Linked DNA regions of Homo sapiens: region 1 is linked to region 2. A link means that fine-mapping ties the variant in region 2 to the expression of a gene that starts in the linked region. Tissue or cell type: hypothalamus. Region 2 holds a variant in brackets; the other region holds the start of a gene. All regions are shown on one strand. Distances are from middle to middle.

What was found. PIP is the estimated chance that this variant, and not a neighbour inherited with it, causes the effect.
Region 1: AXIN1 starts here. The variant in region 2 is fine-mapped to the expression of AXIN1 in hypothalamus (GTEx, PIP 0.97).

What each region holds. Positions count from the first base shown.
Region 1 is chr16:348,614-356,684 of GRCh38, forward strand. It overlaps AXIN1 (axin 1), which reads right to left and starts at 4,110. Exons shown (of 11, transcript NM_003502.4): 1 at 3,756-4,110. RefSeq lists an enhancer at 616-895 and silencers at 3,329-3,388, 3,399-3,468, 3,489-3,538, 3,819-3,898, 3,999-4,478 and 1 more.
Region 2 is chr16:310,534-318,622 of GRCh38, forward strand. AXIN1 (axin 1) reads right to left here. Exons shown (of 11, transcript NM_003502.4): 3 at 4,010-4,150. Among named protein-coding and RNA genes, the nearest start is that of PDIA2, 31 kb to the left of the region's middle. RefSeq lists enhancers at 6,212-6,965, 6,966-7,717, 7,718-8,089. The variant C/T (reference allele first, on the strand shown) is at 3,595.

The sequences.
Region 1 (8,071 bases), 38 kb after region 2:
ACATAGTGAGACCCAATCTCTACCAAAAAACAGTTCTTAATTAGCCGGGTATGGTAGCGTATGCCTGTAGTCTCAGCTACTTGGAAGACTGAGGCAAGAGGATCACTTGACCCAGGAGTTCAAGGCTGCAGTGAGCTATAATCGCACCCCACTGCACTCCAGCCTGGGCAACAGAGCAAGATCCTGTCTCTAAAAAAAAAATAGGCCGGGCACAGTGGCTCACACCTGTAATCCCAGCACTTTGGGAAGCCAAGGCGGGCGGATCACGAGGTCAAGAGATCGAGACCATCCTGGCTAACACGGTGAAACCCCATCTCTACTAAAAATACAAAAAATTAGCCAGGCATGGTGGTGGGCACCTGCAGTCCCAGCTACTCGGGAGACTGACGTGGGAGAATGGCATGAACCCGGGAGGCAGAGCTTGCAGTGAGCCGACACCGCGCCGGCCACTGCACTCCAGCTTGGGCGACAGAGTGAGACTCTGTCTCAAAAAAATAAAATAAAATAAAATAAAATAAAATTAGTAAATAAATAAGAAGCACCCATAGATGGAGGATGGTTTGCAACTATGTGCCCCCAATGACATTTCAGCAGCTAAGGACTTTTTGTGAACGCTGCTGGGTAGTATGTCATCTTGGCCTCAGCAGGAACACACAGCTTCTAAAGGTCAAGGCCCAGTGAGCTGTGACATCCTGCTGCTCACAGACCACTTCAGCGGCAGTCACTCCGTGAGCCACATCAGCATGGAGGGAGCACCCTGGGCGTGGGCACCTCCACACTAGCTCACGGTCATCTGTCTGGGACGCCATCACAGGAAAGAAGGCCTGCACCCTGACCACCTGAGCCTTACCACTATAGATGTACTACCATTCACTAGCTTGAAGAACCAAGTCACCGGAGAGTGGAAAGTGATTAATCAGACAGTGCTCAGAAGGGAGGCTAACCACAAGTCACCATCATGCTCTCATAAGGGACTTAAGTCTTCTGTGTTAATTATTGGTAGTAGCGGGACCCACAGCACCCAGCACAAGGTCCTGCAACTAACGGGCACCAGTAAGTCATTCACTGATGTAAAAAAGAAAAGACATTTGTCACAGACGCCAAACACTGGCTCTCTACAGGGGCTGAACTACTGTACCACAGAAAACAGCAGCAAATTCTTCCAAAACTAATGGGTTTTGTTGTTTTGTTTTTTGTTATTTTGAGACAGGGTCTCGCTCTGTCGCCTAGGCTGGACTGCAGTGGGGCGATCTCAGCTCACTGCAGCCTCAGCTTCCCAGGCTCAAGCAATTCTCCAGCCTCAGCCTCTCAAGTGGCGGGGACTACAGGCACGAGTCATCAACGCCCGGCTAATTACTGTATTTTGGGTTTCACCACGTTGGCCAGGCTGGTCTCAAACTCCTGAGCTCAAAGCAATCCACCCGCCTCGGCCTCCCAAAGTGTTGGGATTACAGGCCACTTTGCCTGGCCCCAAAACTAATGTTTTAATTCATGTGTGAACCAAATTTTCAGAGCCCAGAAGAAAATTTTCTTACAATCATGTGTATTTTTGGCTGTCAACTGACAGAAGACTTTTTGGTGTCCCTGGAAGCACATGAACCCCTCTACAAGCTACTGATGTTGTTGAAACATGTCCCAATTCCTGAAATCTCTGGGTTCCCACAGGGAAGCACACCAAGCATTTAGTGTACACACAAGTACACACCACACATAAAGCAGTCACGTTTACTCAGTTCAGTATCAAATGCCTGCAAGCACTGAATCTGGCCCACAGCCTGTAGCTACCATCAATAAAGTGAGTCCATAAAACGGGCGGGATGCCTACAAGTATGATACTGTATTTAAAATTCCCTTTCGTCACCGCTTAGGCATATGCTCCAGGCATCATGGCAGCAAACTCAATGCTACCTACGTGTGTAGGTATTTATTTTACCCAAACGTAACTTTTGACATTTTGATTTACATGGAGGAGGCAAGTAACACAACACGACTCTGACATCTTCCCAGCTGTCCATTGATTTAACTCTTGAAGGTTCAGGGCTACTATTTCACATGTAATTTATTCCCCCATCACTGAAATTCTCAATGACCAATGTAATCCGAAAAAGTCTGCTTAGCTTTTCTGAAACTAGAAACCCAAGACAAGTCAACACCAGCTGAAAATCAAACAAAAACAGTCTGTTTTTCATGCTTTCCCATCCTTGTCCCTGAATGGAGATCTTAAAACTGAAACCAAAGCCAGGTGAGGTGGCTCACGCCTGTAATCCCAGCACTTTGGGAGGCCGAGGTGGGCGGATCACCTGAGGTCGGGAGTTCAAGACCATCCTGACCCACATACAGAAACCCCATCTCTACTAAAAATACAAAATTAGTCAGGCTTGGTGGCGCATGCCTATAATCCCAGCTACTTGGGAAGGCTGAGGCAGGAGAATCGCTTGAACCTGGGAGGCGGAGGATGCGGTGAGCGGAGATCACGCCATTGGACTCCAGCCTGGGCAACAAGAGCAAAACTCTGTCTCAAAAAAAAAAAAAAACTGAAACCGAGCTATTGCTGAGTATCTCGGGTAGCCGGTTTAGACTGTGTTTTCTCCAAAATAGGGCCTGTGGATCCAAGTAAGCTCGAGATTCTTCCTGAAGAAGCAGAGAACAGAAGTGTGAGCAAAAACAAGGGGCTGACATGCACATAAGAACCCTTTATAAATTATCTTAGAAGGGGCCAGGCGCGGTGGCTCACGCCTGTAATCCCAACACTTTGGTAGGCCAAAGTGGGCAGATCACCTGAGGTCAGGAGTTCCAGGCCAGCCTGGTCAACATGGTGAAACCCTGTCTCTACTAAAAATACAAAAATTAGCCGGATGTGGTGGCGCATGCCTGTTATCCCAGCTACTCAGGCGGCTGAGGCAGGAAAACTGCTTGAACCCGGGAGGCGGAGGTTGCAGTGAGCCAAGATAGCGCCACTGCACTCCAGCCTGGGCTACAGTGCGAGACTCCGTCTCAAAAAAAAAAAATTATCTTAGAGGACGGTGGTCACCCCTGTAGTCCCAACACCTTGGAAGGCTGAGGCAGGTGGATCGCTTGAGGCCAAGAATTCAACACCTGCTGGGCAATATAGTGACACCCCATCTCTACAAAAAATATATATATATATATCTTATAGATGGGCTGAGAAAAATCCCCAGAGAACTGACATGTTTTTCTCTACTTTCTTCAATGCCAAGCTGAAAGTTTCACTGCTCGGGCAGTGCAGCTCTGGTTTCACGGGGGCTAAATTCCAAAGTGCGGGGCGGGGGTAGAATCTAAGAACCACACCCAAGAGAAAGACCAGTGTTTGGGCAGCAAGGCATCAACCTGGAGGGTACGGACGCCGGAGCACGCGGCTACTCAGGCCGAACCCCGACCCGGACCCGGCACGCGGCCTCGGCGAGGGCGGGCGGGAGTGTCCTCCTCCGGGACAGCCGGACTCCCGCCGACTTCTGGGCGGCGGGGAGGGCTCCAGGCCCGGCTCTCCCGGGCCCCCGCACGCGATGCGCGGCCCCTGCAGCTGCTCCGTGCCCCGAGACGCGCCCGAGGCCTCGGACCTCCAAGCGGCCACCGCGCCGCCAGTCCCGCTGCCCAGGGACACCCCGGCCCCAGCTCCCCGCGCGCCCACCCCCTCGGTCCCACGCGCGTCAGCCACCCGCGCCCCCCGCCGCTTCCGGGTCCCGCCCGCCCGGCCTACCGCGGCCTAGCCCGCCCCGGAGCCCGGCCCTACTCACCCGCGCGCGGTGGTGGCGGGACCCCGGGCCCGGCTCCCGGAGCGGCGCGGCGCGGTCCGGGCCCATGCGCTCAGCGGCAGCGCGGCGGGCGGGACCCGGCGGGGGCGCGGCCCGGGGCGGCCCCCATCTCGGCGGCTGCGGCTCGGCGGCCCGGAGGCGGACGCGGGGCAGGCCGCGGGGGCGCCGCAGGGGCCCAGCCGCCAGCTCCCACCCGCCCGCTCCGCGTGGACGCGGCTCCGGGCCGACTCCGGCCGGCTCTGGCGGCGGCAGCGGCCACGATCGCCTCCCGAGCCAGAGCCCGAGCCAGAGCGCCGAAGCCCAGGCCCGAGCGCCCCCGCCGGCGGCGTCCGGAAGTGCGGGGGCGGGGCCGGGGCGCGGGGACGAGGTGAGAGCGCGGGGCGGGGCCTCAACACGGGGCGGGGCCGGCAGCGCGGGGACGAGGTAAAGGGTGTGGGGCGGGGCTTCAGGCGCGGGGCGGGGCTGAAAGCGCGAGGATAAAGTGAGGAGCGTGGGGCGGGGCCGACAGCGAGGGGACAGGTGAGGAGCGCGGGGCGGGGCCGGGGCGTGGGCGGGGCCGGAAGCGAGAAGACGAGGTGAAGAGCTCGGGGCGGGGCCTCGGGCGTGGGGCGGGGACCAGGGAGTAAGGCGGGGCCCGCCTCGAGCAGAAGAGGTAAAGAGCGTGGGGCGGGGCCTCCGGCGCGGGGCGGGGCCGGAAGCGAGAAGACGAGTTGAGAAACATGGGCCGGGGTCTCTGCATGGCCGGGAGAGGGCGTGGTCAGTGCCTGCCGGGGGCGGGGCGTGCCGGGGGCGCGGTCGCGCCGTCTTCCCGAGGGGCGGTGCGGAAGCGGAGCCCGGGAGGCTTTGGCTTCCCAGAGAGCGGAGTGGGAGAGGCGGCGTTGCAGGTCCTTGGAATGGCCGCGGCCGTGGGGAGCACTGGGCGGACTGCGCGCCCCGAAGGGCGCACGTGGGGCGCAGCCCTTTTCTGCCGCCAGTACATCGGAGGGCAGTCAGGGGGCTGCAGGCCTCGGGGCTCCCTGCCCAGCCGGCCCTGGAGAGGAGGCCCTCGTGGGGACCGCCACGGCCTGCCCGCCGCCGTGAGGGAAGCAGGCTCCCAGGAGTGGGGTGGTCGGCAGGCAGGGATGGCCAGGGCCCTTGGAAGGTGGGGTGGGCTCCACCCTCCTGAGTCCCAAGGCAGCCTGGACTCACAGCGCCAGGGAACACGTTAGGCCCCAATATATGGTGGCTCTCACCCGGACAGGAGCCACAACCTCCAAAGAGCCCACCGGCTAGGACCCTCTGCCTTGATTTCTCCCAGGCACCATCTAGTATCAGAGAAGGGTTCTCCTTCCCTCCGCTGCCCAGGCCAGCCCGAGAGCAAGGCCATTGGAGTGTCCAGACCCCTGCACCCCTTCCCCTGGGCTGTCTCCACAGCGGCCCTGCCAAGGGGTCCAGTCCGATCCTGCCACCCTGGCTGCCCAGATCCGTGTCACTTGCCCTGCAGGCCACAGAGCATGAGGTCACAGCCCCAGGCACCCCACGGCAGAGAGGCACGGGCCCCCAGCAGCAGCCCCAGCACCAGCTCTGGCCAGCCCAACCCTGTCAGAACCAACCCTCTGCTCTCCACCCAGGCCTCAGCCAACCATCAGGCCCTCCCCAAGGAGGAGGATGTGAGTACCAGGATCTGCCGCCTCCCACAACAGCCCAGGGCCCTGTCCTTCCCAGAGCACTATTGGGCCTGGCACCTCCCGGGATGCTCCAGGCAGCCCCCTGGGGTCAGCTATACCCCCGTTTCACAGAGGAGACAGCTGCAGTTCAGGCCACACAGGACCAGCTCGCCTCCTGTTGGGTGAGGGCTCCCCACCTCGTCCGCCCCACACCTGAGACAACAGCCCTCATCTATCTGCCCTCTGCTTTAGGCCTCCCAGGGCTCCCTGCTGCCCACAGCCCTTCAGGGCCCTTCCTAAGGGCGCCTCCCCCACACCTTCCCCTAGATGCGTCTGGCCACTTGCCCGCCTCCGTGCTTCCGTGTCCATCATGTCCATACCTGCCAGCTCCCTCCAGGCACCTCTCACGTCACCCCCATGTCTTTCCCTGGGCTGTGTCACCCTGGATGCCCAGCCTCACCCTTCAGAGCTCCCAGGCAAGCACAGAAGTCCCAGCTCCAGGCTCCCCGAGCTTCCAGCCTACCCCCAACCAGATGCCCACAGGTGGGACTGCATGGGGAACCATGTGTGGAAGCCTCCCAGCCCTCGCCCCTGCCAGCACTCAGCATGGTGTCTGATGCCAGCATCGCTGTGTGGGAAAGGGGGTAGCATGGGACAAGGGCCACTAGGCTGTCCCCAGCCTGCCAAGGGCCCAGGCCCACCTCCCAGGGCCATCACTGTGCTCAGAGCAGGTGGGCAGGGGCTGGGGATATGAACGAAGCTGCACTGTTAGACCAACACCTGGCCCCGCTGGGTCCTGGCCGCAGGCACCCTGCCAGGTCCCACAGTGCTGGACACTGGGGCCTCCCCGCAAGCCCCCTAGCCCATTCAGCCTCAGAACCTTAGAGGAGACAGAGTGGGTGGCCTCCATGGTAAAGCACAGTTTCCAGGGATGAGGGAGTCCTGGGTGGCCAGACAGACAGCAGGACCTCAGACACTGGCCCCTGGGCTGCCCCCCGACTCCCAACAAGGTCCCCAATGCTTGCCTTGGTTCTGCAGAGCTGCTGCTGTGTCCGGGCCAGGCTCTCGGGGCTGTGTCCACGTCCATCCTCCTCTTGGCCCTCGGTGGCAGGTGTCCCCAGGCCCTGGGACCAGAACAAGGCCCTTGGGCCTCCAGCTCCTCGGGGCCCCTGCCCTGCAGGGACAGGAAGGGGGTCAGAAAGCCTGGAGGAAATGCAGCAGCCCTTCTAAAGTAGGTTGTGGTGTGGGTGTGGAGGGGAGATTCTCTGAGCCTAGTGGGGGTAGGAGGAGACCAGAGGCAGGCCAGGCAGAAGAGAGGTAGAGGAAGGCCCTGAGGAGGGGCAGGGAGGCGCGCGGGGGCCTGTGGTGTGCAGGGTGAGGTTCAGCCACCTCCCTTCCTCACAGAGCTCCTTGAAGAGGCAAACGCCCTTTGCTTCGAGCGTGAGTTTGCCACGAAGGCTTTTATTTGATTGACCGTAGATGACATTTAATCAGGTTTTGTTTCTAGGCACCAAATGAGACACTTAAGAGCAGACATGGAATTATTTTCTTCAATGTAGACATAAAAGGTATGTTTTTTTGTTTGTTGGTTTTTGGAGACGGAGTTTCATTCTGTTGCCCAGGCTGGAGCCCAGTGGCGTGATTTTGGCTCACTGCAGCCTCCACCTACCATGCTCAAGTGATCTTCCCACCTCAGCCTCCCGAGTAACTGGGATTACAGGCGTGTGCCACCACACCCCACTAATTGTTTGTATTTTTGCTAGAGACAGGGTTTCATCATGTTGCCCAGGCCGGTCTCTAACTCCTGAGCTCAAGGGATCCACCTGCGTTGGCCTCCCGAAGTGCTGGGATTACGGGCCCAAGCCACCATGCCCAGCCTAAAAGGAATACCTTGAAAATAAAGTGGCTGGCCCGGAGCGGTGGCTCACGCCTGTAATCCCAGCACTTTGGGAGGCCGATGCAGGTGGATCACGAAGTAAGGAGTTCGAGACCAGCCTGACCAACATGGTGAAACCCCATCTCTACTAAAAATAGAAAAATTAGCCAGGCGTGGTGGCGCACACCTGTAGTCCCAGCTACTCAGGAGGCTGAGGCAGGATAATTGCTTGAACCTGGGAGGCAGAGGTTGCAGTGAGCTGAGATCGCCCCATTGCACTCCAGCCTGGGTGACAGAGCGAGACTCTGTCTCAAAAAAATAAAAATAAAGAAAAGGCCAGGCACGGTGGCTCACACCCGTAGTCCTAGCAGTTCGGGAGGCCAAGGCCAGAGGATCACTTAAGCTTAGGAGTTCAAGACCAGTCTGGGCAACATAGTGAGACCTTGTCTCTACTAAACAATTTTTAAAAACTAGCTGGGCGTGGTGTTGCGCACCTATGGTCTCAGCTACTCGGGAGCGCGAGGCAGGTGGATCACTTGAACCCAGCGGTTGGAGGCTTTAGTGAGCTGTGATTGAGCCACTACACGTCAGCCTGGGCAACAGAGTAAGACCGTGTCTCCAAGAAATAAAAATTAAGAAAATAATAAAGTGAGTTTTGATGCCTTAAGTGTGTTTATCCATTTAACTGAGGAAGACCACTTATAAAAAATGACCCAAAGGAAACCCTGGAAGACACCCCAAGGACATTAGCTGGGGAGTGTTTGCCGCTGTACGAT
Region 2 (8,089 bases):
CTACAGGTGCCCGCCACCACGCCCAGCTAATTTTTTTGTATTTTTAGTAGACACGGGGTTTCACTGTGTTAGCCAGGAGAGTCTCGATCTCCTGACCTCGTGATCCGCCCGCCTCGGCCTCGCAAAGTGCTGGGAGTAATTACAGGCGCAAGCCACGGCGCCCGGCCAAGGTTTCTACATTTTTAAAGGGTGGGGGAAGAATCTGTGACAGGGACTGCATGCGGCTGCAAAGCCTCACATATTCACTGCCAGCCCTGCACGGGAAACGTTTGCTGGCCCCTGCTTGTGGCCTAGACCACTGTGCAGTGTGCCTGCCTTGGAGGGCATTGCTAAATGGACCAAAAACATTTCAGGATTGCACAGTGGGCAGCCAGGACAACCAGTGCCCCACGGAAAGATAGGAGATGCCAAGGCTGCACACTCTGCTTCTCTCCAGGAGCTGGCAGGGCAGTGTGGTCTCTGAGGGAGGCACAAGGTAGCTCTTTAGCAACAGGTTTTCTTTTATTTTTTTCTTTTTGAGACGGAGTCTTGCTCTGTCGCCCAGGCTGGAGTGTAGTGGCGCGATCTCGGATCACTGCAAGCCGCTCCCGGGTTCACGCCATTCTCCTGCCTCAGCCTCCCGAGTAGCTGGGACTACAGGTGCCCGCCACCACGCCCGGCTAATTTTTTGTATTATTTAGTAGAGACGGGGTTTCACTGTGTTAACCACGATGGTCTCAATCTCCTGACCCCGTGATCCGCCTGCCTCGGCCTCCCAAACTGCTGGGATTACAGGCATGCGCCACCGCGCCCAGCCCGCAACAGGTTTTCTTTATGAACCCTTTAGAAGATCATTAAAACACGAAAGTCAGATTATACATGGTCTGAATAATTACCCCAGGGTTAAGATAACTCACGCACAACCATCCTTCATGAAAGCCCTCGCCCTCTCCCAGCTATTAGAAAAGCTGCCTTCGGGCTGGGCGCAGTGGCTCATGCCTGTCATCCCAGCACTGTGGGAGGCCGAGGCGGGCGGATCACGAGGTCAGGAGATCGAGACCATCCTGGCTAACACGGTGAAACCCCGTCTCTACTAAAAATACAAAAAATTAGCCAGGTGTGGTGGCGAGTGCCTGTAGTCCCAGCTACTCGGGAGGCTGAGGCAGGAGAATGGCGTGAACCCGGGAGGCGGAGGTTGCAGTGAGGCGAGATTGTGCCACTGCACTCCAGTCTGGGCAACAGAGCAAGACTACGTCTCAAAAAAGAAAAGGAAGAAAGAAAGAAAAGCTGCCTTCGGAAGCACGGCAGCTCCAGGGATCCGTGCCGCACCCAGGGGCCTCTCAGAGCTGCCAGGAGACACAGGACGACTGAAGAGAGCGCCCGACCCAGGGCTGCGTGGCAGACACGGCAACTCCTGAGGCATCCTCGGCTGTCACAGCACCACTGAGTGTTGTGGGCAATGGTGAGCCGAGTCCAGGTCTGGCTCAGCCACGGTGGGCGTCAGGAACAAGTGAATCTAAAACTCACCTAACACTTGCCTCGGGGTTTGTTGAAGTGTCCTGAAGCCACCAACCTACTGGTTTCTTAGACATGATACTTGGATTGGGTAACCTCCACAGGCCTCCGTGGATTAGACACTGACCCCACATCTGTGTCCACAGCCCACAGCCTCTCGAGTGCCATGTGGAATGTTGTGAGCTTGCCGCCAGCACAAAAGCTGAGGGCAGCTGCCCCACCGGAATGATGCTCTTCACCTGTCCACTTTTTACCTCTGATTTGCTTTCGAGTACGTGTAGCAATTTCACATTCCAAATTGTTAAACACTTCAGTACAAACCAAGATGAACAGAATATCAAGAAAAAAAATACCTATTTATTTTAGGTCCTCCCTTTAGGAAACATATGTCCCTTTTCTTGGAGAGAATTAGGAGACTTTTTGAGAAAACTGAGTTGGCAGGTTACTTTTTGTTGTAGTAACAGAGTTTTGGGGAAGAGGGAAACCAGATGCTAGGATGCATGTCAGGCGCTCCGTGGGCTGCACTGCACCCAACCACCTGGCCCGAGGCTTCAGGACCACGGCAGGCACTGCTTCAACTCCAGTAACCTCAAGTCAGGTGCTGCTAAAATCACGTCAACATTTTATTTTGAAGATTCAAAATTAAACGAGGATGAAAGAAACCAGGAGAAGCCACACACAGCAGCTCTGCCCGGAAGGGGCAGGGAGCTGCCCCTGCACTACCACAGCTACCTGGGGAAAAACCAAGGGGCCAAGACCTACGGCAATGTGGGCTGGCTGAATCTGGTTCAGAAACAGAATGTGACAACTTGTTCTCCTCATCTGAAATTCAGGTTTTGGAAAAATGTTTAAAGACAGGCAAATGAAAAGAACAAACCAGCCAGGCACAGTGGCTCATGCCCATAATCCCAGCACTCGTGAGGCTGAAGTGGGTGCAGTTTGCGCCCAGGAGTTGGAGACTGCATAGTGAGGCCTCGTCTCCACAAAAATAATCATCATCATCAGCCGGATGCAGTGGCTCATGCCCGTAATCCCAGCACTCATGAGGCTGAAGTGGGTGCACCGTTTGAGCCTCGGAGTTCGAGACTGCATAGTGAGGCCTCGTCTCCACAAAAATTATAATAATCATTAGCCAGGCGTGGTGGCGCACGCTTGTAGCCTCAGCAACTCTGAAGGCTGAGGCAGAATTGCTTGGGACCAGGAGACAGAAGCTACAGTAAGCCAAGATCGCACCATTGCAGTCCAGCCTGGGTGACAGTGAGATCCTGTCTCAAAATGAAAAGAACCATAAAAATGGTACATACAGTGGGACCATCACTTAAAACATATTCATAAAAAGATGGGCAGAATCACCAGTAGGTGAGAAGTCCCTCTCTCCTCCTCCAGCCCTATCCAGATCTCCAGGCTTTCCTCATGGAGAACCCAGCTAAGCGGGAAAGACATCTGGGACACCACTGGCCGCAGTGGGGATGGAGGGTGGTGGTCCGCGGGCTCCAGCTGCTCACAAGTTCATAGCCGCTGGCTTCCTCCAATGCTGAGGCTGCTGCAGGGAGACCCTGGTTCCTGCGGCTCGGCCCCAGCCCTGGCTAGGATGGCTGGTGGGCAGGTGGCGTGTGGCGCACAGACCAGAGCTGGGAAGGTCTGAGCTTCATGGGTAACCAAAACCCCAAATGACCCCCACAGGCTGGCAGCCAGTGCCCTACTGCAACAAGACTGTTGGCATCATCTAATGGCTGGGGTGTACATAGGTCCCAAAAAGCCAGCTGCGAAGCACAGGGGAAGAGGTCATAAAACAAGCACGTTCCTACACATGGGGTTTCCCTGGACAATGAAAGAATAAGCTTCTGCCTGTCACCTCGAGCGTCACACATGTGTGGCCCAGGCCTCAGCACAACCACAGCATCTTCCCTCACTCCTGCTCCCAGCCCCTTGCCAAGTGGGTGACAGGGACAAGACAGGACCCTGTACTGCACCAGCGTCGGCAGAAACGCCACCCTCAGGGACCACATCACTCGCCACAGCCAGTGGTGAGGCAGCTGGCCTGTGCCTGTCTTTAAGCTGAAACCCCAGACTCTGAAAACCAAAGAGCAAACTCTAGCC[C/T]GGGCAGCCTACAGACTGTCTTAGGTTCACCCTCGATCCTTCCTCATAGGGAGGTCCCAGCAGCCCTGGTCACAGAGAGAAGCAACCGACACAAAGCTGAGCCCTCACTTGTACTGCTTGGAGGACAGCCTCTGCGGTACAGCCTGCCTGCATGTCCAGACGCACTCTCACTGAGACCTGGGGAGCCAGGAAACACTTTTCCTGAAGACAAAGCCCAGGCATCTCTGGGTCAGCACGAAGCCCCCTCTGAGCTGGCCGCGCTCTGCAGCAGGGTGGGACTTACACGCTGCCATCCGCAAGAAACAGGGTGTCTGGGGCAGGACTTACACATTGCTGTCCTCAAGGGACAAGGTGTCTGGGACCGGACTTACACACTGCTGTCCGTGAGGGACTGGGTATCCGGGGCGGGACTTACACGCTGCTGTCCGTGAGGGACAGGGTGTCTGCATCGCTGGACAGGCTCTGCTGCTCGCTGTCGTTGGCACTGGTGGCTGGGGCCAGGGCATAGCCGGCATTGACATAATAGGGGTTGACTGGCTCCCGCCAGGATCCATACCTGCAAACAGGCAAGCAGGGCATGTTAGTGACAGCCTGCCAACAGCCTCTCATTTTATTTCACATTTTCATGTTATCTGAATATCTCAATGTATTAATTAAAAACACAAGCAATTTGGAGAAAATAAGGAGCATGGAGAAAAGACCAACATCTCCACCTGTCCTCTTGTCCCTCTGTCCTTTTCAACGGGGTGCATTAAAGCACCGGGCATCTTTCCAGATCTCTCCTCTGATTTTAGGCGGGGGCTTTGGTGCACACACAGAGCATCCACACGTGATCATTTGGGTTTGTTTTCCGTGCACGGTACTAGAAATGGGACGCAGATGTTCTGCTCATTCTGCAGTGCGCGTCGGGAGAGGACACTGGGTTTTGATCAGGATGAGGCCCTTGGGATTCAGCTCAGACGTCTCTGCACCTGTGCCCAAGTCCAAGCATGGCCACGGGACTGATGTCAGGGCCGGTATGTGACAGTGTGTGTGGGTGGTGCCACCTCCTGTCCCCCTACCTAGAGCAGAGGTTCCTCCCCAGCTCCTGGGACGATTCACCTCCTCTTGTTACTGCAAAATTAGCCAGGAAATGACACCTTTTTTCAATCTGCACTTCCCTGATTAATGGTCAGATTGGCAGTTTAGCGTATTTGTCATTTAAACTTCTTCCTCTTTATCTGTTCATATGGTTTACCATTTTCTATGGGGTGGATTATGAGTTTCTTGGTGATTTACAGAAGTCTTCAAATAGACTTGTTATTAATCTCTGGTTATATACGCAAAAAACATTTTCTCCCTAAATGTCATTTTTCTTTTTAACATTGCTCAGGTTGATTTTGGTCAAACAAAATTTTTCATTTCTATGAAATCAGACAGGCCGGGTGCGGTGGCTCATGCCTTTAATCCCAGCACTTTGGGTGGCCGAGGCAGGCAGATCACGAGGTCAGGAGATCGAGACCATCCTGGCTAACACAGTGAAACCCCGTCTCTACTAAAAATACAAAAAATTAGCTGGGCGTGGTGGCGGGCGCCTGTAGTCCCAGACTACTTCGGAGGCTGAGGCGGGAGAATAGCGTGAACCTGGGAGGCGGAGCTTGCAGTAAGCTGAGATCACGCCACTGCACTCCAGCCTGGGTGACAGAGCAAGACTCTGTCTCAAAAGAAAAAAAAAAAAAAAAAAAAGAACAGCCTGACCAACATGGTGAAACCCCATCTCTAGTAAAAATACAAAAATTAGCTAGGTGTGGTGGCACGCACCTGTAATCCCAGCTACTTGGGAGGCTGAGGCAAGAGAATCGCTTGAACCCGGGAGGCAGAGATTGCAGTAAGCTGAGATCGCAGCACTGCACTCCAGCCTGGGCGACAGAGTAAGACTCTGTCTCAAAAATAAAATAAATAAATCAATCAGATATTCCAATCTTTTCCTTTATTTATTTATTTATTTTCTATTTTGGAAACACAGTCCTTCCTTATTCCAGAATTACACATATATTCTATTTTTCTTTATATGCTCCAGTTTTTTTTAGACCTTCACCTGAAATGTGTGTATACAAAATCTAGGCCAGTCCAGCAGAGCCTAAAGGTAAAAAATAAAATAATAAAAAATAAATAAAATCTAGCTCACTCCTTCACATCAAAATGGAGATACAGCTGTTAGCATTAAATACCAAATAACCCATCTTGTCCTCAATAATTTTAAGCGCCTCTCTCCACCACATCTAACTCCTGTCAAAGGCATGTGCCCCTTCCGGGCGCTCTGCTGTGCTGCCAACCAACTGGCATGTGGACTCTGCAGGGTCCCTAACTGCCAAGCCCCACAGTGTGCCCTGAGGCTGCCCCTTCCTTCTAGCGGCTGCCCCCACTCGGCTTTGCTTTCCCTAGTTTCAGTTACTTGCGTTCAGCCAAGGTCTGAAACTAGGTGCGCACAGAGCGGTAAGACTGCGAGAGAAAGAGACCAGCTTTACAGGGGGTTTATCACAGTGCACCCTGACAGTCGTCAGCCTCACAGGGGGTTTATCACATTGCACCCTGACAGTCGTCAGCCTCACAGGGGGTTTATCACAGTGCACCCTTACAATCATTCCATTTGATTCACAATTTTTTTAGTCTCTACTGTGCCTAACTTGTAAGTTAAATTTGATCAGAGGTGTGTTCCCAGAGGGGAAAACAGTATATACAGGGTTCAGTACTATCGCATTTCAGGCCTCCACCTGGGTCTTGGAATGTGTCCCCCGAGGGGTGATGACTACCTCAGTTGGATCTCCACAGGTCACAGTGACACAAGATAACCAAGACACCTCCCAAGGCTACCACAATGGGCCGCCCTCCACGTGCACATGGCCGGAGGAACTGCCATGTCGGAGGTGCAAGCACACCTGCGCATCAGAGTCCTTGGTGTGGAGGGAGGGACCAGCGCAGCTTCCAGCCATCCACCTGATGAACAGAACCTAGGGAAAGCCCCAGTTCTACTTACACCAGGAAAGGCCCTTTGACAAGATGGGAGGGGGGCAGGCAGCCCAGCACCTTGGACTCTGGTGACATGGGATGCCTGGGGAGATGAGCGAGCACTGCGAGCTGGGGACAGCCTGTGGCGGTGCTGGGCAGGGCCTCGCTGCACGGGGCCATTTCCCCTGGGGCTGTGGCCTCCATGCCCTCTGGAGGGTATCGCATGGGGCCAGAACACACAAGCAGGGCCTTTCATACGAACAGTGCTGGTGACCGTGCTCAGCTGCTCGGGAGGCAGGTGCAGGACCCCATGCCACAATGGAAAACACGGTTCACGATGTCAGGCCCCTGCCAGGGCCGATGTCCACGAGTCCCTCTGACCCACCCACTGTGGCCTGGTCGCTCACTGCAGGCCACAGACAGTCACGGCCAGGTGACGGCAGCCTCAGGCTGACAGCAACCATGGGGCCGCTCTTGGGAAATGGGTTCTCTGGAAACACCGACCACCGGTGGCTGGGCTTTGTAAGTTTGGTTCACTCCTCGTCTCCTCTCTGTACCTGACATAGAGCAGATAAAATGATACCAGCCTGCAGCTTCAGGCTCTTTGCTTTAAGCATCATGCAGTATTTATAAATGACACCATTATTCCTTTGATACTTAAAGCCACAGCTGCTCAGCAGCTACTGATATTATCACTGTAACAACCACTGCAGCCAACCTCAGATCTCAGGTTAAGTACTAAAGTCTCCCTATTACTATGAAGGAACACTGAACTTTGGTAACTTTCTATAAACATCTATTTGGCCAAATAAAAACATTTCAAATGGAAGAGAGAAGGCCACTGCCGCACAGAAGTTTAAGAAGTCTACGTCCACGGCACACGGGTGCATCTGTAGCCCACGGCACTTGGTGCGTCTGTAGCCCACAGCACACGGCGCGTCTGTAGCCCACGGCACATGGCGTGTCTGTCTTGGCACGCACTGGAAGCACGTGCCCTGCCCTCATGCTGCCATGGGGCTCACACCTGTCCCGTCACTTGGGAGCCACATACAGCAGAACGAAGCCTTCTGTGTTCATGTGTCCAATTCCAAATCCTTCTCCCACTCTGACTTCCCAGGTGTGCCTTTCACATTTTTGGAAAACCTGTTTGTCTTTAAAATGAGAAGCAGGAGAAACGCAGGTTTCCCATTTTCCACAAGCTCCAGCACACAGCAAGTTCCACTGCACACAAGCACCAAGGTCAGGCAGCAAAGGGGAGAGAAGCGGGAGAAGGCGGCTGGGAGAAAAGAAAAGGAAGAAGGGCAGCCTGTTTACTATTGATCTTCGTAACAATCCCAGACAACTGCCCTGGCTCTCAGGATCTGCCCTCAGCACTCAGATGGCTCCTGTACCTGAAGACACAGGCGGCCGGGCTTGGCCTTCACTACCAGCAGATGCGACCAAGAACGTTCTGGTCAAAGACACGTCCAAGGGGAGGTCACATGGGAGTTCCAGGATCCCCCCATAT